3 linked regions of the Homo sapiens genome follow. The protein of the gene in region 3 interacts with the protein of the main gene of each other region in a pairwise test. Each region holds a gene or a part of one and is shown on either strand. Other genes may lie near its edges.

Region 1 (7,033 bases), on a different chromosome or scaffold from region 3:
TGGAAGCATTTGTAGTTGTAGGGTTTGCCCCAGGGCCGCGGGATGTAGTGTGGCTTCTTGGGCTTCCGAGACCGCGCCCTCGCCCCTGTGCCCACGCGGCATGAGCCCGCCTCCCGCGACATGGCAGCCTGCTATGAGGCAGGGCCGGGCACCATGGCCACCTGTAGATGGGGCCACAGTCAGTGCCAAGCCTGCCTCTGACTAACTCCCCACTCCTCTCCATCCATGGCTCCCCAGGCTCCAGGGACTGGAGCCTGGGTGCTCCCCCCACCCCGCCGCCTCTGCCCTGCAACGTGCCCCCCGAGCCCCATCCTTCGGCTCCTCCCCACGTGCACTTCCAGGGTGGCAGCAAAGTCCAGGGCACCAAAAAAAAAAAAAAAAGTCCAGGACAGCGAGCTGCATCTGACGCCGATCAGCAGCACGTCATTTCTGAGTGTTAAGTGTAGCCTAGGCAATATTGGAAAGGCACACTAGAAAGGTGTTCATTGTTTATCGGAAATTCGATTTTAACTAGGCGTCCTTTATTTTATCGGTTGACCCTACACACATCCCCACCCCTGAGGCCAGGCCGACTTGCTGGCCAATTTCTAGGATAGTTCAGCCCACACCCATCTCCCCACAGCATGTGAGTGGCTAAAAGAATCAGCGTGACCAGAGCTCACTTCGGGTGGACGTCAGCCTCCTGGTCTCATTCCCTCCAGCAACCCTGGCCCCTGCCAATCTGCCTGTTCAAAGCCTAGGAAAAGGCACTGAGATGAGACACCAACGGAAGGGTCTGTGTGGGATGATGCTGCGTGTGTGTGTGTGTGCCTGTGTGTGTCTGTGTGTGTGCATGTGTGCGTGTGCATGCACGTGTGTGTGCGTGCATGTGCGTGTGTGTGCACACGTGTGTGCGCCTGTGTGTGCATGTGCCTCTGTGCATGCTTGTGTTCATGTGCACGTGTGTGCATTGTGTGTGCATGTGTGCATGCATGCATGTGTGAGTGCGTGTGTATGCGTGTGTGTCTAAAGGCGGCACAGAGCCTGCTCTAGCAGGGCGTCAGGTGGGCACTGGGGGTCTCTTAGGGGGTCAGTCTCATGTGGGGCCAGGCCAGGCTGTGGGGAGTGGACGTCCCAGCATGGCCCCACGGCTCAGCCACCTGCTCAGCCCAGCTCCATCTGGGTGGCTTCGGGCAGGTCAGCGGCCGAGCCTGCAGCGGCCACACTCAGCCAAGACCCGCTCCTCCCCACGCCCCACACGGCGCTGGTATGCGCGCCACACTCCATCTGGGCCGCCACCTGGGCTGTCCACCGCCCCAGCACGCGCCTGTGTGGGGTGCACAGCACGCCTGCGCACACGGGCTTTGGGTGTGTGTACACAGCCCACAGGCTCACACAGAGCCCTCACCCAGTGCCCGGAGAAGCCACCTCTGTGCCACCTAAGCTCAGAACGGAGTCTGCCACCAAGTGCGGGGCCCTGGCTGCACACACCTCACACTCCATCACGGTGAACACGGCTGCTTGTCCGTGATAACACACTCACCACCCATCCAGGTGTGGGGGGGCTTTCCAAACCACTCCAACACGGCACTCACATGCTCACACAGGCCCTACACACCGACTCCCCAGGACACACGCAGACCTGGCTGGGGGTCGCACCCGTGGTCATGCATGGCCAGTGGGTTGAGCAGGGTAGGGCTGGGGCACTGCTGTCTGCTGCCCCCAAAACACTGTGTTGGTGCCGTTGGGGGGACGACCAACAGGGCTGGAGAAGTCCACTCGTCCAAAGGCTTGGGGCCCTGCAGGGCAGTCACGGGCTGCAGGGGCAGGCAGAGGCTGACCAGCTGGTCTGTGGCTGAGACAGGGTGGCGGTCGGGAGGCAGGGGCTGGGCCAGGAGAGGTCCTGGGGCTCCCCGAGGGGCTGCAGACCCGGCCTGGACTGGGTGGTGGGTGCAGAGGCGGCCCCTTCTCCCTGCCCGCCGCCCCCCCCACCCATGTGGATGACAAATGGGTGTGGGCGCTCCGGCGACAGAGGCGGCTGTGCCGGGCCATCGATCACCCAGCCCTGGGAGCCACACAGCTGTGCCAGCCGATGCCACAACCCATCCCGCCTCCCAGCAGGGACCGGGGGCTCCCGGGTCAGGGGCTTGTCCAAGGGGCTGTCTCAGCAGCTGCTGACCCCTTGGGGACCCGGAGGATAGCTGGCACCCACCTGGTGTGTGTACACAGAGCAAAAGACACCCCTGGACAGCAGCCACACGCACACACAAACGCATACGCACTCACACGCGCGTCCCAGCCGGACCCGGCAATCGCTCCCGGGGCAGCCAGCAGCCCTGTGCCAGGCCCCGACACCCGGCCCCACTCACCTGTCCCTGTTTGGGGGAGAGCTGGGGGAGAACCGGTGGCACGGGGGGCACAGGCACCCCCACAGGGCAGGAGGGGGCACCCAGCAGCCGGGGACCCTGATCGGCCACCCGCAGATCCTGCTGCCCCCCCCCCCGGGAACGCAGGGCGCCCCACACAGGCGGGTGCGGCGAGCGCGAGGTCAGGCGTCTGCCCCAGACCCCAGACCCGGCCCCTGCCCTCCCCGCCTGGCCCCTGAGGGCGGCCCTCCCTCCCCCCGCGCTGCTCCTGGACTTCGAGAAGAGGGTGGGGGGGACCCGGCCGCCCCCCGCGCCCCCCACACGCCTGGCCACCCGCTGCCCCCGCGCCCCGCGTCCAGCCGGCCCCGCGACGCCCAACTGGCCGCCCCCGCGGCTCCCGCCGCTCCTACCTGCGCCCGGCCGGGAGCGGAGCCGCCAAGTCTGCGAGGCCGCGTGTAGGGCGCAAACTTCCCGCCCCTCCCCGCCCCGCGCCGGCCGCGACTCGGACCCCGCGGACGCGCTGGGGCTCTGGGGGTGGGATGCGGCTCCCGTGGGGGAAACTGAGGCCCGGCGCCGGGAGCCGGACCTCCCGGGTCCGCGGTCCCTCGAGCGGCAGCGACTCCCGCAGCCTCCGCCGCCGCCCGCGTCCCCCCGACGCCGCTCGCACCTCCCGAAGTTGGCGGCAGAGGCGGGCGCGCGTGCGCCTGGGCTCCGGGCTCCGGGGGGCGCTGCGACCTCCGACCGCGCTCGCGGCGGGAGGGAAGGAGCAGCCCCCGGCCCGAACCCCGCGCCCCCGCCGCCCGCGCGCCCCCCGCCGCCCCCTGGCGCGCACTCACCGGCCTCGTGCGCCGGGACCGGCTCAGCTCTCGGGGCGCGCGGTGGAGCGGCCGGGAACCCGGGAGGCAGCGGACGGAGAGCGGACTGCGGCGCAGGTGTGCGGCCGAGTCAGGGGCGCCCGGCGCCTCCCGCCCCCGTTGCCCGCAGGCTGCCGCGGGGGTGCACAGAGGCCGCCAGGTCTCCCGGGTCCCCGCCGCGGCGTGATGGGTGTCAGCGGCGCGGGGCGCGGGAGAGGGGCCGTCAGCGCTTATCCATCAGGGCTCTGGCCCCTGACAGCCGCCGGCCCACCCGAGCCAGGGCCCCTGGGGGCTGTCCTGGGGGACAGGGGTGCCGCGGACTGAGCCAGCGGAGCCGGGCTCCCTTCCTTGCCCTCCCTGGGCGAGCCCTGCCCTCCGTTCTCTTTTCCTCTAAACCGGAGGCTGCCCGGACCGGCCCCTCGCACCCCGCCCTGCCGGCTGACCGCCTCCACCTGGGGCTGGTCTCCAGCACCCTCCCCCTTCCTGGATGCGGACCCCTCCAGCCCTCACTCCCGGCTCCTGTGGGAGGTGCCTCAGCGCTGCCCCACGAGGCCACGCACTTCCCTGCTGTTTGAAAGACCCCCTCCCCACGGGAGTCCCCTCCTGAGAGGACCTGGGGCGGTGGAGGAGAGAAGCAGGGCCAGGGCTGCTCCCAGCCCCACCTCCCGGGCTGCACCAAGTTCCAAGCAGCTCCCTGAGCTGCCAGAACGTAAAGGCCTGGAGCCCCACTGCTCAGCTGGGGCCTAGGGGAGGTTCGCCTGACCGGCCTGCTCCCTCCCGGACACAGGCATGGCTGGGGCAGAGCCCCTGACTTCGCTCAGGGGAGACGTCCTAAACCCGACACTTGCGGTAGGCGGGCGTCTCGGGGTCTCCAGCCAGAGGGGAGTGTGCTACTCCCTGCTGACTCTGAAACAGCACAGGGAGCCCGGCCCACATAGCTCCCCAGGACCTGGGGCTCTCTGCAGGCTCAGCCGCAGGCTCCCGGGCTGTCCCCAGCTCAGGTCGGGGTCAGGGGTGCCTTGGGGAAGAAGGGAGGACCCCACGGGGCTTCTGGGTGTCACCCCTCGAATGGGGCAGAGAAGAGAGCTCAGCAGCATCTCCGTGGCCCCGGTCCGGCTGCTGGCAGAGCCCCCTGGTAGAGCACACCCAGGGTCCATGAGGAACAGCCCCTGGTTCTGGGGTGGGCGTGGGGCTCTGTCTCCCTCCTGCCTCCATGCCACCTTCCCTGACACAGCCGCACACGCCCGTCTGAGGGAAGTCCCTGGGGCGGGGCAGGGGACTGGGAGGGGTGCTGTGGATGGCAGAGCATGCCAGCCTTCTCTCTGCCCACCTGGCCTGGCCCAGCTGACCAGCTGACCGTGCAGGCAGCTCCGGGCCGGGAGACAGCTTGGGCTGCCGTCACGCCAGCAGCCCCGTGGAGAGCGGGGGCCAGGAGGCCGGCTGCTTCTGTACATAGACTCTACTCTGGACGTGTTCAGCTGAGCACTGCCCCGGGAGACTAGGGTCCAAGGTCACCCTGACACCAGTAGTCCCTCAGTGGCCAGCCCGAGACTGACCCCTTTGAAGGTCTGGAAGAGGCCACAGCTGACAGCACAGGAGACCAACTGGCTGGAGGCTCTGGCCATTGTCCAGGGGAGGAAAGTAGGGAGCAGGGAGGCCTGGTCTTGGAGCACCTAGATGTCAGCATACAGGAAATAAAGCCCAGTGAAGCTCAGGGGACCAAGGAGCCCCAGAGGGGGAACAAGGCCGTGTCTAGCGCTGAGCAGGCTGAAGGAGCACCTCCACCCCTCACCACCGATGGGCCTTTGCAGAAGTTTGCATGAGAAGAGAAGAGGGGCAGCCTCGAGAGGGGCCCCGGGGCACAACTTGGACGTGTTTCTGGCCTCCCGGAAGGACTCTGGCAGGGAGGATGAGGGGGCCCTGCACCTGCTGGTGGGGGTCCTGAGATTCAGCCGTGCACGAGGTGGGGGGTGAGGAGCATGTGAGGCCAGTACACTGGGTGCCCAGATGACTGTTCCCATCACAAACAGCCAGGCGAGGCCGGGATATCAGTGCCAGCACCCCGCAACCACAGGGCCCCCTGGGCACGTCAGCTTCCTCACTGTGGCCATGACCCACCTGCTTGGTCCCAGCTCTTGCACACTGGGCTGACTTTGGGTTTGGAGAGGTGGCTTCTGCTTCCTGAGGCAGTGACTGGGACTCTGTTTTGGCACCTGTGCCCCCACCCCCCCAACTTTCTGGCCCATGGCCCCCATCTGCAGAATGGGCAGTGGGGTGCTCAGTGTCCGGGCACTTCTGCTCTGGTCCTAGTGGGTGCCCTGATGTCTCCTTAGCCAGTCCCAGTGCAGGGTGGGATGGGGACCCCATGGCCCCTCCTTCTGCCTCCAGCCAGAAGCTCATTTTTGGCCATTAACCTCTTCTGCCCGGTCTGCCCACGGCTGCCCGCCTGTCACCTCCATTAACAATGGGACTCTGTGCCGGGGGCTCACGGGCAGGACGGAGAGCTGGGCTCAGAGAAGGCAGCGGAGGCAGCGCTCGGCATGGCCAGTGCCCGGGGGCAGGCCTGTCTCATCCCCTCAGTGTCGACACACAGCCAGTGTCAGGACAGGTGCAGGGGCCGGGGTGCCTGCACCCACACAGTGAGGGCAGTGTCAGGGCTGCAGCCAGGCTGGAGGCCCCACGCAGGTCCTGAGACCGGGGCAATCTATCCAGCGGCAGCAGGTTGGAGCCCCCACGTGGGGTCAGTACCTTGCAAGGTGTCCGGACACAGCTGATGTCTGTCCTTTCAATAACGGACCCCAGGGCCTGTGGCCACCCTGAGCACTTCAAGAACCCCAGGTCTACAGAGCATAGGCCTCCTGGGGGCTTCCTCCTTGCTGCCCACTTGAGGATCCCTGGTTGAGAGGGGCAGCCCAGCCTTGGCGGAAGGGGTCATGGATACACGTGAGGGCCCTCGGCACCAGCCTGAGGCTGCTGGCCTTGATGGGCGGGTACACAGTGGGGGTGCCAGGGGAGAACGGAGGGGGCTGGGCAACCGAGTGGGCCAGAGCGCCCAGGACAACGGCCCAAGGGTGTGGGGGGCACACGAAGAGCCTGCGGAGCTCTGGGGTCCCTGGGTCCATCCACCTGAGGGAACGGGGGCCCTGTTAGGAGGCGCCTGAATGGGGGCTCCAGGAGTCTTCCGGCTCGAGCACTACCAGGGATAGTCCTCCCCAGCAGCCCTGACCATCCCAGAGTCCACACCAGAGAGTCCCCTCCCCACCCGCCTCCCGGCTCTGGAAGACCCCAGCTGGGCCCTTCCCCATGCACTACACTCTCATAGACGTGCCGGGTCACTGGCCACCCTGGGCCGGGTGCGGGGCTGACCCTCTGTGTGTCCTGAGCCTCTGGGACGGAGGAGGGTACAGGACGCTCCTTGGAGGGCTGAGCTGCTGTGGTGGGAGTGAGCCCCGTCCCAGGAGGCTGGGATGTAGACTGACAGAGGGGGCAGCCAGCCAGGCGGGTGGGACGGGAGGCTGAGGCTGCTCGAGCCCCCACCGGCTCCCGAGCCTGGCACTGGCCAGCAGCGCCCGGGGCCGACAGCAGCCATATGTTGGGAAGAGGAGCTGTGTGTGTCTCTCTGCGGCCCCCGGGGCTGGCCTTCCTGGGCCTGTCACAGATGATTTTCCCCGCCTGAGTGGCAGGCGGGCTGGCGGGCGGGGTGGCGGGGCCTCCAACTGGCAGGTGGGGTGGTGGGGCCCCATGTCCAGCCCCCCCATAGCCCTCAGCACCAGGGCTGGCCACTGTTGGGGTAGATCCGGGTCCTGGGCCTTGGCCTCCCACCCCCCAAAACCT
Region 2 (7,329 bases), on a different chromosome or scaffold from region 3:
GAGCTGAGATCGAGCCACTGTACTCCAGCCCGGGTGACAGAGTGACACTCCGTGTCAAAAAAAAAAAAATTTATTAACATGGGCTGGCGCGATGGCTCATGCCTGTAATCCCAGCACTTTGGGAGGCCAAGGCAGGTGGATCACGAGTTCAGGAGTTCGAGACCTGCCTGGCCAACATGGTGAAGCCCCGTCTCTACTAAAAATACAAAAAATTAGCTGGGCGTGGTCGTGGGCACCTGTAATCCTAGCTACTCGGGAGGCTGAGGCAGAAGAATTGCTTGAACCCGGAAGGTGGACATTGCAGTGGGCCGAGATCGTGGCACTCTGCACTCCAGCCTGAGCGACAAAGCGAGACCCAGTCTCAAACAAACAAACAAACAAACAAAAACCAAAAAAACCAAAAAACAATCAGTAACAAGATGACAACTCAATTAAAAAAATAGGCAAAATATTTGAAAGACATTTTACAAAAGAAGATATATGGATAGTCAACAAGCACATGAAAAGATGCTTCATATCGTCAGTCATCAGGAAAATGCAAATGAAAGCTGTAATAAGATACCACTTAAAATCCAGCTGAATGACTACAATGAATAAGACAGATCATAAGGAGTGTTGGTGAGGATGTGGACAAATTGGAACCCTCATACACTCTGGTGGAAATGTAAAATGGGAAATTCACCTTGGAAAGCAGTTGTGCAACACCTTGAAAAGTTACACCCAGAGTTACCATATGACAGTAATTCCACTCGTAGATATACACCCAAGAAAACTGAAAACACACGTTCATACAAAAACTTGTACCCATCTTCATAGCAGCATTATTCATAATGCTAAATACTGTACTGTATTTACTGTAATACAATTACAATTAGTACAATTAAACACTATATTTAAATACTAGAAGAAATCCAAATGTCTGTTAATTGGTACTGTTAAATAAAATGTGGATTATTACTTAGCAATAAAAAGGAATGAAGTAATGAGACATACTACAACATGGATGAACCTCAAAAACATTATGCTAAGTAAAAGAAACTAGATGCAAAGGATCGCATAATGTGTAATTCCACTTACATGCCCAGAAAAGGTAAATTTATAGACAGAAAGTTTTTTAGTGATTGGGGCTGGGGATAGGAAACCAGGACTTGCCTGCAAATGGGCACAAAGTATTTTTTTAGGATGATGAAAATTTTCTAAATTTTCTAGGATGATGAAAATTTTCTAAATTTTCTAGGATGATGAAAATTTTCTAAATTTTCTAGGATGATGAAAATTTTCTAAAATTGGAATGTGGTGATGGTTGTGATTTTCTAAAACAATCATTGAGTTATATCCTTAAGACAAATGAACTTTATAATATATAAATTATACTTCATTAAAGCTGTTAAAAATAGCTATGAAACCACAACGCAGTTTTATGTGTAATTCTGGTTTTTATACATATTATGACAAGACTTTTATAAAGACGGGGCAACCATGACTCCCCAAGACAGTGTGGCAGCGGTCCCCAAAAATCTTAAAGAAGTAAACTCAATGCTTTCGAAGACTACAAAGAAGTGCATCAAAATTTATATTATTCAACAATGATAAGGTAAATGTATTCGGGTAAGAAGCATGGTTACTAACCTGTGTGCCAGTATTTACACAGCATGGGGCCCCTTAGCTTCTGGTCTCTGCTCTGGTCTAGCCATCTTAAATTCCACTGTCAGTTTTATTGTCTTCAAATATTACTTTCATAAGGGGTGCCTCCTGTTCCAAACACAGGACCCAAACCCCTGATTTTGGGAATTCCGGCTCTTTATATTTCTCATGCTGCTTTTTAAAATTTGTAACCAAAGTTTCCAAATGAACCTTCTGCCGCAGTCAGAACCAACTCTTCCTCAGGCTGCATGTATTTGCTAACAACTCACTCACTAGTAGGGATGCCACTTCCCTTATTTTTCTCTCTGAAATTCTGCCCATTGCTCAGGCCCAAATTGAGTCTTACCCATACTGTGAAGCCTTCTCTGAATAATTCATCTCACATTGAGCTGAGCTCCTGAAGCACCTGTGCTCTACAACAGTCATCCGGGCATTAAGAACTGTTCAGAAGTTTTAGTTTAAATGTTCTGAGCCTCATTTGTCCCTGCTCTTGAGGGGCTGGATTTTATTACTTTATATTCCCCTATATGGATTAACACAGGCAACTTAAGAAATAGTCATGTTCATCAACGTTTCCTTGATAAATTCTTTTGTATTTGTTTTAATTAAAAATGTCATTTTTGAAATATGATTGCTGGATTTTTTTGAGAATTTACCCTTACATGCTGATTCTGCTTCAGGTATCTGTAGTATGTTTTGTTCAGCCATTAGCAGATCTGTCCCTGGAATCCCTAATCCACAAATATACACAAAATTTGGGTTCAAGCAACTCTATTTTCTCCTATATCTTTTAATAGATATATTATCTATTATGCCAGGTATGACAATATATAAACAAAAATATCCATATAAAAATTACAATATTACTAAATGTCCTTCTAAATCCACACTTAAGCAACAATAACGAAGCACAGTTTCTTAAAGTAGAAAATGATCTATAGTTAATCTTATTATCTTGCCTCCTTTACCTTTCAAAAATCCACTGATAATCTGGGCATGATGCTTTCAAACTTCACCCTAAAGAGAAAAATGCTCTCTGAACACTCTTCTTCCTGCTGTCTTTAAATTGTGCCTGTATTTTCTCTGCTTTTCCTTTGACACTCAATCACTCCTTTAAAACTTGTAAAAAACCGGAAAAGTTTCTGTAACTCTCCAATCTCCAACTATGTCGTAAAATCCCTTGCCAGTTTACCCAGTCTGCTGGAGAGGCTCACCGTTTCTTTTTCGAGCGAATTACACAGTTGTCTTGGCAGCGTGATTTGCCCTCTGGTTCCTGCTTTATCAGTTTGGTGATTCTTTGTACAGATTGATAACCATGAAAAAGTCTAAAGTAGGGCAGTTCCGGAGCAGCCTTTTCCCATAAAGCAAGCGGGTACCTCACAAAACTCCAGGCAAAAGAATGAATGATAGAGCACTCACCAATAGCGAGTGGAGAAGAGTATTTTGTCGAAGTTTGCAAACCAATCTTTGGGAGCCAGAGGTGGGAATTTTAAAATGAGGTCTTTTCCTTGGAATTTTCTTAAAGTGGTATCGTTGCCTGTTGATATTGAAGTTTGTCAAAGAACGTGAAATCACCAGCTTAGAGGATTTTTTTCCCCTTTAAGAGAGACAAAACGTGCGAATTGATTCTCTACAAATTGTGAGAACTTCAAGAGTGGGGTCATAAAGTATTATCAAATATAATCACTTGGTAACTTTTGTGTCAATGTGGGGAGGAGGTGAAGGTTATTTTAACATGATTCATTTTTCATGATCAAATATCAGATATTAATCACTGAAAAACAGTATTCCCCATTAAAAAAAAGAAATGAAAACTAAGAGGCTAACATTGTTTTCAAAAAACTGTTCTACTGTTAATCTTTTTTCTTTTTTGGGGGGTGTAACTCTTCATATATTAGCAGCAAGTCTTATTATTTGGGCTGACCATTAAACACCGTATCTTTGTTTTTACACAAAATGTGGATTTCCTCATTTTAAGACCAGCAAAAAATTTCTGAGTGCCACGAATTCTTAGGTATTCCGAAACTATCTTAGAAATACATGACATATACCAACCATGCTGTATACCTGAATAGCTCTTGAAGACCAGATTTAATAGATAACTGATAATTTTTATTATAACTCATACCTTGTTTTAAAACCAATGTTTTTTATTTAATATAACTCTGCTTTCTAGGTTATTCGTCTCTATGAATAATTAAGTCAGCAACTGTAAAAACTACTTCATTATAAAGTTAAAGTTCCTTGACAAGGAGCCTCGCAAACTCATAGACAGGCTTTCCACAGAACAAAAAATATCAGCGGTTGTAGTAGAGGATTATACTTTAAAATCTTCATTTCAGAAGGAAATTTGTCATATTAATGAGACACTTTAAAAAGTGTCTTTTAAAAATGTTTCCGAACTATGCTTCCAAGTATTTTTAACAGCATAAAGCCCTCTTTCATGCTATTTCGCTGACATAATAATTTTCGTCTTGAAGAAATACATATTGACGGCCTACTCAGTCAGGCTAGGAAGTGTCATTGTATTTAACTCTCTAAATTGTTCCTGACCTTTTTAGCAATCTTTACTCAAAATAAACCTTGGGTGTTTGAAGGGCAGAGACTAGGTTACGTCCTCCTCATCTTTGTTATCTACCAGTTCGTAGTGACCCCTTAAATCCGGTGCTTAGACTCACTACTTGCTAAATAACGTTGGCTTCGTTACATAAACCCACTGGCCTGTTTTTCAACGGTCAGACTGGCGCTGTTAGTCCCTGTGTCATGGGATTGCTGTCAAGGGTTCAACGAGATAATCTATAAACAGCTCTTAGAACGAACGCTCAACGTGGGATCATTGTTGTAATCCCTCAACGTGTGCTCTGAATGAGAAGCCGAGTGACTGAATGAATGTATGAATGAAGGAACAGGTCAGTAACTGGCGGTTCCCGAAGTTGGAGCCGACTAAATTACCCCTTCAAGACGCTAAGCAAAAGCCACTCCGTCGACATCAAACCCCACGCCGGAGCCGGAAGCAAGAGTAGAGCCGCGGGCGGGGCCAGCATAGAGGAAGTAGCGCTCTCGGCCAATACACAGATCGCTTGGCAAACGAGCATTTTCCCGCGCCTATCGTGAAAGCGCGAGAACACAGGGGATTATCGCGAGGTTCCGTGCTCCTCTCCCGCTCCCTCTTCCCCAGCTCCCTCTGGCGCGGGTTCCGCTCCACCCCCGGAGCCCCGCCCCCGACGCCCGGCGCTCCGCCCCGCCCTCGCCTGGCTCCCTGCCCCGCCCCGCCCGCCGTCCCCCGCTTGGCTTCCAGCGCCGCTTGCGCTCCGGAGCGCTGGCTCTGCTGGCGCTGAGGTGAGTAGAGCTGTCCGCCTCGTCGGGTGATTCAAGTGGCGAGGCTCTCTGACCCGGCCCCCCGGCGGGGACGCCCCAGACGTGGTCCTGCCAAAGCGTCCGGGTCGCGGCGAGTGGGACAGCGGAGCCGTCCGGGCCTCGGGTGGCCACAGCTGCCGGGTCCTCCTCCCACTCTGCGGCCCGCGGCCCCTGGGACCCGAGAACCCTGATACCGGGTCCGTGAAATCCCTGCTGCTGGGCTCGCTGCTTCCCAACTGTAACGATCTCAGTGGCTGGCTAACTCGGGCGAAACGGCGTGTGTTTTGCCTAAGACTCTGCCAGTGTTTGTTACCACAGCTGAGAAAATAGCCTTTTACAAATGCTTTTAATATGTAGCTTATAGTTCTCTAATCTCCAGCGTTAGGAAATTGGAATGCGTATTCTACTAAATTGAGTACGGGGAGGTCAGTATAAGGGACTCCTTCCTTTCAAAATACTCCTTAATATGTGTGGAATTTTGTTGAGAGGTTTTTGATTTTTTTGTTTTGTTTTTAATAATAAGATAGATTGGTGTTCACCTGTCAGAAAGCTCGTGTGTAAGTGCAGCTGTATACAGCTGATATTAAGTAATACTATTTGCCTTAACTACATAAGAGGTAGTATAACTATACAAGAGGTAGTTTGCTTAACTAGGTAAGATGTAGTCAAGTGAAATGGGGTAAGAAAATTACCTTGTTAAAGGCTGTGTATGGCCCGTGAATGCATACTGCAAAACTGTGAGCATTGTTGATGCTTTATTGCTATTATTGGCAGTTTTAGGATTTCATTTGTTTAGATTTTATCTCCCAAACAGCCTTTGTAGCAATTTTAACAGAGTGTAATGGTGTTTTTGAGGCAGCCAATCCCAGCCAGAACATTCAGAAGGAAAGCCGTCAGGTTACAGGGACTGTCTTATTGAATCTTCCTTCAGTGAGTGTGGTTTTGCATTATAGGGCGGCGGTGCACACGCTTTGTAGTCAGTCCACCTGCGATGGAACTATGGCATGTTACCCTCTGAGAAACTCAGTTTCCTCCTCTACAAAACGGGCTACATAATGTCTATTGCAGTGCATGGTTGTAAAGATTAGACATCCTTGTGGCATGTAGCAAGCTTATAGGCTCTATCCGTGGTCTTGACATAGTTGGATGAAAAATCAACCTTGCAATGTTCTTCCACATGTCATCAGATATTAGAAGGCCTACTTTAAAATTTTAAGTCCCTGGATACATGTGCAGAATATGCCGGTTTGTTACATAGGTAAACGTGTGCCATGGTGATTTGCTGCACCTGTCAACCCATCACCTAGGTTTTAGGAAGGGTTACTTTTAGTTACTGTGCTAGATGCAGGTATGCAAGCGTGAAGAAAACAACGCAGTCCCTGCCCTCAGGATTTCTAAATAAGTTTCGGAAGGGTTTATTTACAGGCTTTTTGGCTTTATTGACAATAGACAGATGCAACGATAAATATTTAAGTGACAAATTGTGAGGAGTCCTACGAAGAAAAAACAAACAGCCAAGTTCCTCTGAAAGAACACCAGGGGAATTACTTTGGGATAGGGAAGTGATTTTTTTTTTTTTAAGACTGAGTCTCGCTCTGTCGCTCAGGTTGGAGTGCAGTGGTGCGATCTCGGTTTACTGCAAGCTCCGCCTCCCGGTTTCAAGAGATTCTCCTGCCTCAGTCTCCCGAGTAGCTGGGATTACAGGCGCCCGCCACCAAACCCAGCTAATTTTTGTATTTTTAGTAGAGATGGGGTTTCGCCAAGTTGGCCAGGCTGGTCTCGAACTCCTCACCTCAGGTGATCCACCCTCCTCGGCCTCCCAAAGTGCTAGGATTACAGGCGTGAGCCACTGCGCCCGGTCTCAGGAAGTAATTTTTATGTTGAAATCTGGAGAATGATGGGACATTGCTTTCTAGGCTAAGAGGAGACCAGCAAGTGCTGTTAGGGGTTTAGTAGCTTTGAGGATTGGAAAAGCCCAGAAGCTTGGTGAGAAGCCAAGCAGAGTTGCTGGAGAAGTGGGTGGGGGCAGATGGTGAGGCACCCTCAAGGCCTAGTATGAGTTGATTTTCTAAGTAAGAAGTTTCTGAAGGGTTTATTTAGTAAGATGTGTACCGAAAAGAGTGAGATGTAATTGGATGTACATTTTTAAAGGCCCATTGCTGGGATTAATGTGTTGGAAGTGACTAGAGTGGACACAGGGAGACTGGTAATACTGTTGGCCAGGCAGGAGATGACTGTGGCTTGTGGTTTTGGCAGATGGAGAGATTTGGATGGATTTGAGATGTATTTGGGAGATAGAGGCCACTAGCCTTGTGATAGATTGGAGGT
Region 3 (7,132 bases):
CATGAAAGGGGCCATCTGCAGGGTCATTTGCAGTGACACTAATAATGCAAGGTCCAGCCCCAGCATGCATCCGGACCTAGAACTGAACAGCAAAACCTAGGCAAGCTCCCCACCTTCTAGATCAGTTCCCAAACTTTCAGGAAACTGTTGAAAGCATAGGTGTAATAGAGATTCTAGAGGCCCACCTTCAAAGGATCTGCTTCAGGGGGTCTCCAGTGAGACCCAGAACTCTACACTTATAGGTGACACTCCCAGGTAATTCTAGAGAGCCTGGAACCTACAAGGCCTCTACCCTGATCTCCCACCTGCTCCCCTATGAAAGCTTGTCAGTGAGACAGAAGAAGCACCAGAAGCCCCCAGCGAGAGCCCGACATTGGAATACCTAGCTTCTCAGGATCCACTGGGCCTCCCACTATGGCCTCAAGCCAGCATCACTGGCTTTTCTTCTTCCCAGCAGGGAACAGCAGGCACAGAGTCAGAAGTGGGAAGTGCAGCTGGACGCCTGCACCACTGCCTGGTCTCTGCCCCTTCTCTCCTCCCCTTCCCCAGCAACACCCCTGTGTCCCCAAGGTCACCAGAATCAGGTGGAAACTGGGTTACATCACAGGACTGGGGAGGCAGCCTTTGTTGGGCCTGCTCTGATAACATTCAAGTGCTGGCCTTGGCCACTGTGGAGGAGGGGCAGAAACAGAGGGACTAGGCACACTGTCCACACCTCACGACCCCGACAGGAGCAGACAGGTGCTGGGAAACAGTTCTTTCTGAATCTCAATCTCTTGCTCTTATATCCTTTTTTGGGGGGGGTGGGGGGCTGGGGGGCAGGGGAAGACAGTGTCTTGCTCTGTTGCCCAGGCTGGAGTGCAGTGGCGTGGTCACAGCTCACTGCAGCCTCCAACTCCTAGGCTCAAGCCATCCTCCTACCTTAGCTGCCTGAGTAGCTGGGACTACAGGCACGTGCCACCATGCCAAGCTAATTTTTAAAATTTTTTTTGTAGATACCGGGTCTTGCTTTGTTGCCCAGGCTGGTCTTCAACTTCTGGGCTCAAGCAATCCTCCCACCTTGGCCTCCCAAAGTGCTGGGATTACAGGCATGAGCCTTATTGCACGCAGTCTTCCTTCTCTCTCTCTTTTTTTCTAATACAAACTGGCAGATGATGGTTCGATCTCTCGAATTTTTTTTTTTATTTTATTGTTTTATTTACTTTAGTAGAGACAGGGGTCTCACTTTGTTGCCTGGGCTGGTTTTGAACTCCTGGCCTCAAGCAATCCTCCTACCTCAGCCTCCCAAAGTGCTGGGATTACAGGTGTGAGCCGCCGAACCTGGCCTCTTTTTTTTTTTTTTTTTAAAGATTTGAAGGTATCTTTATTTACTTATTTAGATTTTTTAAATCGAGGTATAACATATACAAGTGTGCAAATCTTAACCACACAGCTTGATAAACACTTGATGTATATACGTGCACTCTCAAGAGCAAGATGTACAGTGTTTCCAGAAAGCTCCCTCCTGCCTCCTTCCAGTCATAACTCCTAACAAGGACAGCCACTGTCCTTATTACCATGTTGTCATGTGGCCTGTTTTTGAATGTCACATAAACAGCATCATATAGAATGTACCCTTTTGTGTCTGGTTTCTTTCACTCAATAATATTAAATTGTGAGTTTTTTTTTAATGTGAAGTCTTTCAACGTTTAGAAATTCAATGACACTCTGTTATACAGGTTTTGTTTGTTTGTTTGTTTATTGAGACAGAGTTTTGCTCTTGTTGCCCAGGCTGGAGTGCAGTGGTGCAATCAGGCTCACTGCCACCTCCACCTCCCGGATTCAAGTGATTCTCCTGCCTCAGCCTCCCAAGTAGCTGAGGTTACAGGCGCCTGCCACCACACCGGCTAATTTTTTGTATTTTTAGTAGAGAGGCGGTTTCATCATGTGGGCCAGGCTGGTCTCAAACTCCTGACCTCGAGTGATCTACCCACTCTGGTCTCCCAAAGTGCTGGGATTACAGGTGTGAGCCACCGCGCCCAGCCTGTTACACAGTTAATGAATATTATGGTCATAATATACTGCTGTGGTTTGAATGTATCCTCCTAATTTCATGTGTTGGAAACGTAACCCCCAATGGGGCAGTATTGAAAGTTGGCTGTAGCCTACGCCTATAATCCCAGCACTTTGGGAGGTCAAGACTGGAGGATCGCTTGAAGCCAGGAGTTCAAGACCAGCCTAGGCAACAAAGCTACAAACCATCTTACCAGCAAATTAAAAACTAAAAAATAAATTAGCTGGGCCTGGTGGTGCACGTCTGTAATCCCAGCTACTTGGGAGGCCGAGGCAGGAGGATCTCTTGAGCCCAGGAGGTGGCGGCTGCAGTGAGCTGAGATCCATCACTGAACTCCAGCCTGGGCTCAGAGCGAGCCTCTGTCAATCGATCAATCAATCAATCAATCAGTGTCTTGTCTGGGCCTAAATTCTCTAGAATACAATGGAAGAGGGAAAGTGAAAGAAGGTGGAAGTAACCCACAGCTGGGAGCCCTGAACCCTGCTGGTGGCAGGTGGCTCTCGTGTCCTCACCAGGTTGCCCTGCAATCACATGCTGCATCCTTTTTCCTGAACCTGCCCCACGTGCCCCACCACGCAGCCACTCCGAGGGCTCCTTCAAGGGCGGCAGCCCTGTCACTCACGTGTTCCAAAAGTGCTTCCCCTGTGCCCTGACGGCCTCGCCATGTGTCCCATCATGCCCCACGCGCTCCCACTGTGCGCCCCACCTCGCACCCGTGCCCCATCATGCTCTGCGTGCTCGTTAGGTGCCCCATCATTTCCCGCTCGCTCTCATTACGTACCCAGCCTCCGGCCCCTGTAAGTGCCCCATCGTGCTCTCTGTCGCTCCAGTTAGATGCCCCATCCTGCCCCGCGAGCTCCAATTACGTGCCCCACCTAACCCCCCATGTCCGTGCCCCATCATGCCCCGCACGCTCTGGTTACATGCCCCGCCTGGCGCTCCCGCACATGCCCCATCATGCTCAGCGCGCTCCCATTACGTGCCGCCACCTCGCGCCCCTGCAAGTGCCCAATGTGCCCTGTGTGGTCCCGTTACGTGTCCCATCATGTTTTGTGCGCTCCGATTACGGGCCACACCTGGCAACTCACCGTGCGACCTCTGTAGTTCCAGAGCTCGCGAGGGCCAGGGCCGTTGGCGGCGGTTGGAACGAAACGATGAGTGCCTCCTCGTGGCCCCAGAATGGAATGCCGCCGTCGGTAGGGGTCTGCCGGGCATAAAGGGGCCTTCGGAACCCCACCAGAGTCACAGCCAGGAAGGGCAGCGGGGCGCACCAGGCCGAAGGCTCACGCCACAGGGAGGGCAGCTAGGACATGGGGGGAAGCGCGTTAAACCAGGGAGTCCTGGAAGGGGACGACGCCCCCGGCCAGGTGAGGGCCCAGACGTGGGGGCGTAGACGCTGAGGGGTGGCCGGGTGGGTCTGCGGCTCTGAGGCCTGGCTTTCATTCTCCATCAGTCCCTGTACGAGCGGTTAAGTCAGAGGATGCTGGACATCTCGGGGGACCGGGGCGTGCTGAAGGACGTCATCCGAGAAGGAGCTGGAGACCTAGTGGCGCCTGATGCTTCGGTGCTAGGTACGCCCTGGGGCGGTTTGTCCGCAGGATCCATGTCATCGCACTCTGTTGGGAAGAGAGAGGCCTCATTTTCAAAAAGCATTTAATGGGGTTGGAAATGCTTTGTTTGAAGTGGATTTTTGTTTTTGAAACGGGGTCTCGCTCAGTTCCCCAGGCTGGAGTGCAGTGGTGCGAACATAGCTCACTGCAGCCTCTGCTTCCTGGGCTCAAGTGATTCTCCAGCCTCAGCCTCCCAAATAAGAGATTTACAGGCGCAATCCACCATGCCCGGCTAATTTTTAATATTTTTGTAGAGATGGGGCACTTTCTATGTTGCCCAGGCTGGTCTCAGACTCCTGGTCCCAAGTGATCCTCCCACCTCAGCCTCCCCAGTAGCTGGGATTACAAGCGTGAGCCGCTGCTTCTGCCATGAATTAGTTTTTTTAAGAGGAAAGCTAAGGACCCCTATGTCCCCTTTGCGTGATGCTTCCATGAAGCTCTTGAACCTCTGAGCCGAAGGGCAGGCTCCTAAAATGCAGAGAGATTTATTCCTGTACCTCGTGGTGTCGGGCAGCTTAAGCTCATCTGATCGCATTGTTTCTGTGTGATCATGAGAGACTCGATATTATGGAGGCGTGGGTGTTTTGGGTCCATTTTCCTTACATTCTTTCCTCTATTCTAGTGAAATAGTATGGATACCTGGAACACTTGGACAGACCCTTCGATTCTAATTACTTTAGGAAAACTCCTCGGCTAATGAAACTTGGAGAGGGTAAATTCAGAGTAGGAGCTGGAGAAGAAGGGATTGTTTAGGAGCGAGATGAGGCACCATGCCTCAGGCTGGGAAGACTGCTCAGAGCGCAGGTTCTTTGAATTGACTTTGCTGAGGCTGGGTTTTGGTAAAACAGCCATGTTCTCTCCCCTTGAGACCTAGGCATTTGGGAGATGGCTTAATGGGCAAGGTATAATCTTTGCACTCTGACTTAACTCACCACTGGGAATGTTTCTTTGTTCATTTATTAAGTAAAAATCGACGAATGCTTACTTCCCACAATACATGGTGAAAAGAGAGGTTGTACTCAGAAGATTAGAACATCTCCACCCTTAAGGACCTCACAATGTAGTAGAGGAGACTGACCTGCACTCAGCTCACTTGGTAGAATCGGATGAGTGCCTGGGAGGTGAAAGCAGTGTTGTGGGTGTGCTTAATGAAGGCATGATTAATTCTAGCTGGGAAGTTCAGGGAAGGCTTCCTGGAAGAGGGGGCATTTGAACTGAGCCCAGAAGTTTGAATAAAATTTCTATCACTAGAAGCTGGGCACAGGCTCAGGAGGAAGACATTGCAGGAAGAGGGAACTGTGTGAGGGAGACATGGAGGCCAGAGTACTGCTGACTTAGAGGGGGAAGAAACTGATAGCATTAAGCAGGATACTGAGCAAGCTTCACCCACCTTCTTTGTCCCTTCTTACAGATATTACATTGTGGGGCATGGAGCTGGGCCTTCTGAGCATGCAGAGAGGAGAGCTGGCCAGGTTTCTGTTCAAACCGAACTACGCCTATGGAACGCTGGGCTCCCCTCCCTTGATCCCCCCAAACACCACTGTCCTGTTCAAGATTGAGCTGCTTGACTTCCTAGACTGTGCTGAGTCAGACAAGTTTTGTGCTCTCTCAGCTGTACGTTGCAGAGCACAAATGTCAGCACTTTATAGAGAGACAAATGGGTTGGTGTTTTTGGTAATTCTTCTAGATGGCCTGCCCTGAGGCTGATCGTCCGCCACTGCACTCCAGCATGGGCAACAGAGCAAGACTCCATCTCAAAAAAAAAAAAAAAGCCAGCTGGGATTTTTTTTTTGAGACATGACCTTGCACTGTTGCCCAGGCCGGAGAGCAGTGATGTGATCATAGCCCACTGCAGCCTCAAACTCCTGGGCTCAAGCGATCCTCCTTCCTCAGCCTCCTGGGTAGCTGGGACTACAGGCTGGCACCACAACGCCTGGCTAATTTCTATATTTTTTGTAGAGATCATGTTGCCAGGCTGGTCTCAAATTTCTCGGCTCAAGCAATCCTCCCACCTTGGCTCTTGAAGTGCCAGGATTACAGAAGTGAGCCGCCACACCCAGCCACAGCTGGGATTTTGATAGGGATTGTGTTGAATCTGTAGATCACTTCTGAAGTAATGAAATTTTAATAATATTAAGTCTTTTAATCCATGAACATGATTTCCTTCCATTTATTTAGGTCTTCTTTAGTTTCTTTCAATGATGTTTATAGTTTCTTTTTCTTTTGGAGATGGAGTCTTGCTCTGTCACCCAGGCTGGAGTGCAGTGGCATGATCTCGGCTCACTGTAACCTCTGCCTCTCGGGTTCAAGTGATCCTTGTGCCTCAGCCTCCCGAGTAGCTGGGATTACAGGTGCACTGTACCCGGCTAATATTTGTATTTTTAGTAGAGAAGGGGTTTCACCATATTGACCAGGCTGGTCTCGAACTCCTGACCACAGATGATCCGCCCACCTCGGCCTCCCAAAGCGCTTGGTTTACAGGCGTGAGCCACTGCGCCCAGCCTTATCTTTTCTTCCACACAGATGCTTCGTCTTGGGTAAACTCCTCGACTCCCAAGGCCCCAGCCTCCATCTTTACCTCAGAGCCTCCTGAACCTCCTCCTCCAGCCTCACCTTCCTCCAGCCTCACCACTCCTCCCTGGACCTGCAGCTCCGCACCCCCGGGGGCCTCAGAACTACCCCTTCCAGGGCCTCAGAACTACCCCTACGGTTTCTCCTGCGTAACCTTCTGCCTACCTTCCTGAGAGTGGTTGGTGACAGCAGCCGGGGCTAGAAACCTCGAGGCGACTGTGCTTGAGTCCTCTCTTGCTCTTTACATCCCAAATCCCATCAATTGTCACGCCTTGTGCCTTCCGCCTCTCAAATATTCAGAAAGCAGATGTATGCTGGGCACGGTGGTGACTCAAGCCTATAATCCCAGCACTTCGGAAGGCGGAGGCAGGAGGATCGCTTGAGGCCAGGAATTTTAGACCAGCCGGGGCAACATAGTGAAACCCCATCTCTACAAAATAAAAATAAAAATTAGCTGGGCGTGGTGGCGTGTGCCTGTAGTTTCAGCTACTGGAGAGGCTGAAGCGGGAGGATCACTTGAGCCCGGAGTTCAAGGCTGCAGTGGGCTATAGTCGTGCCACTTCACTCCAGTCTGGGCAACAGAGCAAGATCCTGTTTAAAAAAAAAAAAAAAGCAGATCTAAAGAGGGGCCTGGCGTGGTGGCTCACGCCTGTAATTCCAGCACTTTGGGAGGACAAGGCGGGCAAATCACCTGAGGTCAGGAGTTCAAGACCAACCTGGCCAACATGGTGAAACCCCATCTCTACTAAAAAATACAAAAATTAGCCAGGCGTGGTGGTGGATTCCTGTAACCCCAGCTACTCGGGAGGCTGAGGCAGGGAGAATCGCTTGAACCCAGGAGGCAGAGGTTGCAGTGAGCCAAGATCGTGCCACTGCATTCCAGCCTGGGCAACAGATT

The links. The genes of interacting proteins can lie anywhere in the genome.
Region 1: the proteins of TRIM74 (region 3) and PRR35 interact in binary tests that used the Homo sapiens proteins (3 or more experiments, as listed by UniProt).
Region 2: the proteins of TRIM74 (region 3) and TTC23 interact in binary tests that used the Homo sapiens proteins (3 or more experiments, as listed by UniProt).

Annotation. Positions count from the first base shown.
Region 1 is NC_000016.10:556,384-563,416, reverse strand, and holds the start of PRR35 (proline-rich protein 35), read right to left. Parts: upstream 3,024-7,033; 5' UTR 2,756-3,023; intron 2,521-2,755; exon of another isoform or gene 1,622-2,520; intron 848-1,621; exon of another isoform or gene 663-847; intron 162-662; 5' UTR 123-161; coding exon 1-122.
Region 2 is NC_000015.10:99,246,559-99,253,887, forward strand, and holds the start of TTC23 (tetratricopeptide repeat protein 23), read right to left. Parts: upstream 3,024-7,329; 5' UTR 2,613-3,023; intron 1,753-2,612; exon of another isoform or gene 1,655-1,752; coding exon of another isoform or gene 1,630-1,654; intron 1-1,629. UniProt on the Homo sapiens protein: Participates positively in the ciliary Hedgehog (Hh) signaling.
Region 3 is NC_000007.14:72,966,451-72,973,582, forward strand, and holds the start of TRIM74 (tripartite motif-containing protein 74), read right to left. Parts: upstream 3,017-7,132; 5' UTR 2,835-3,016; intron 504-2,834; exon of another isoform or gene 383-503; intron 1-382.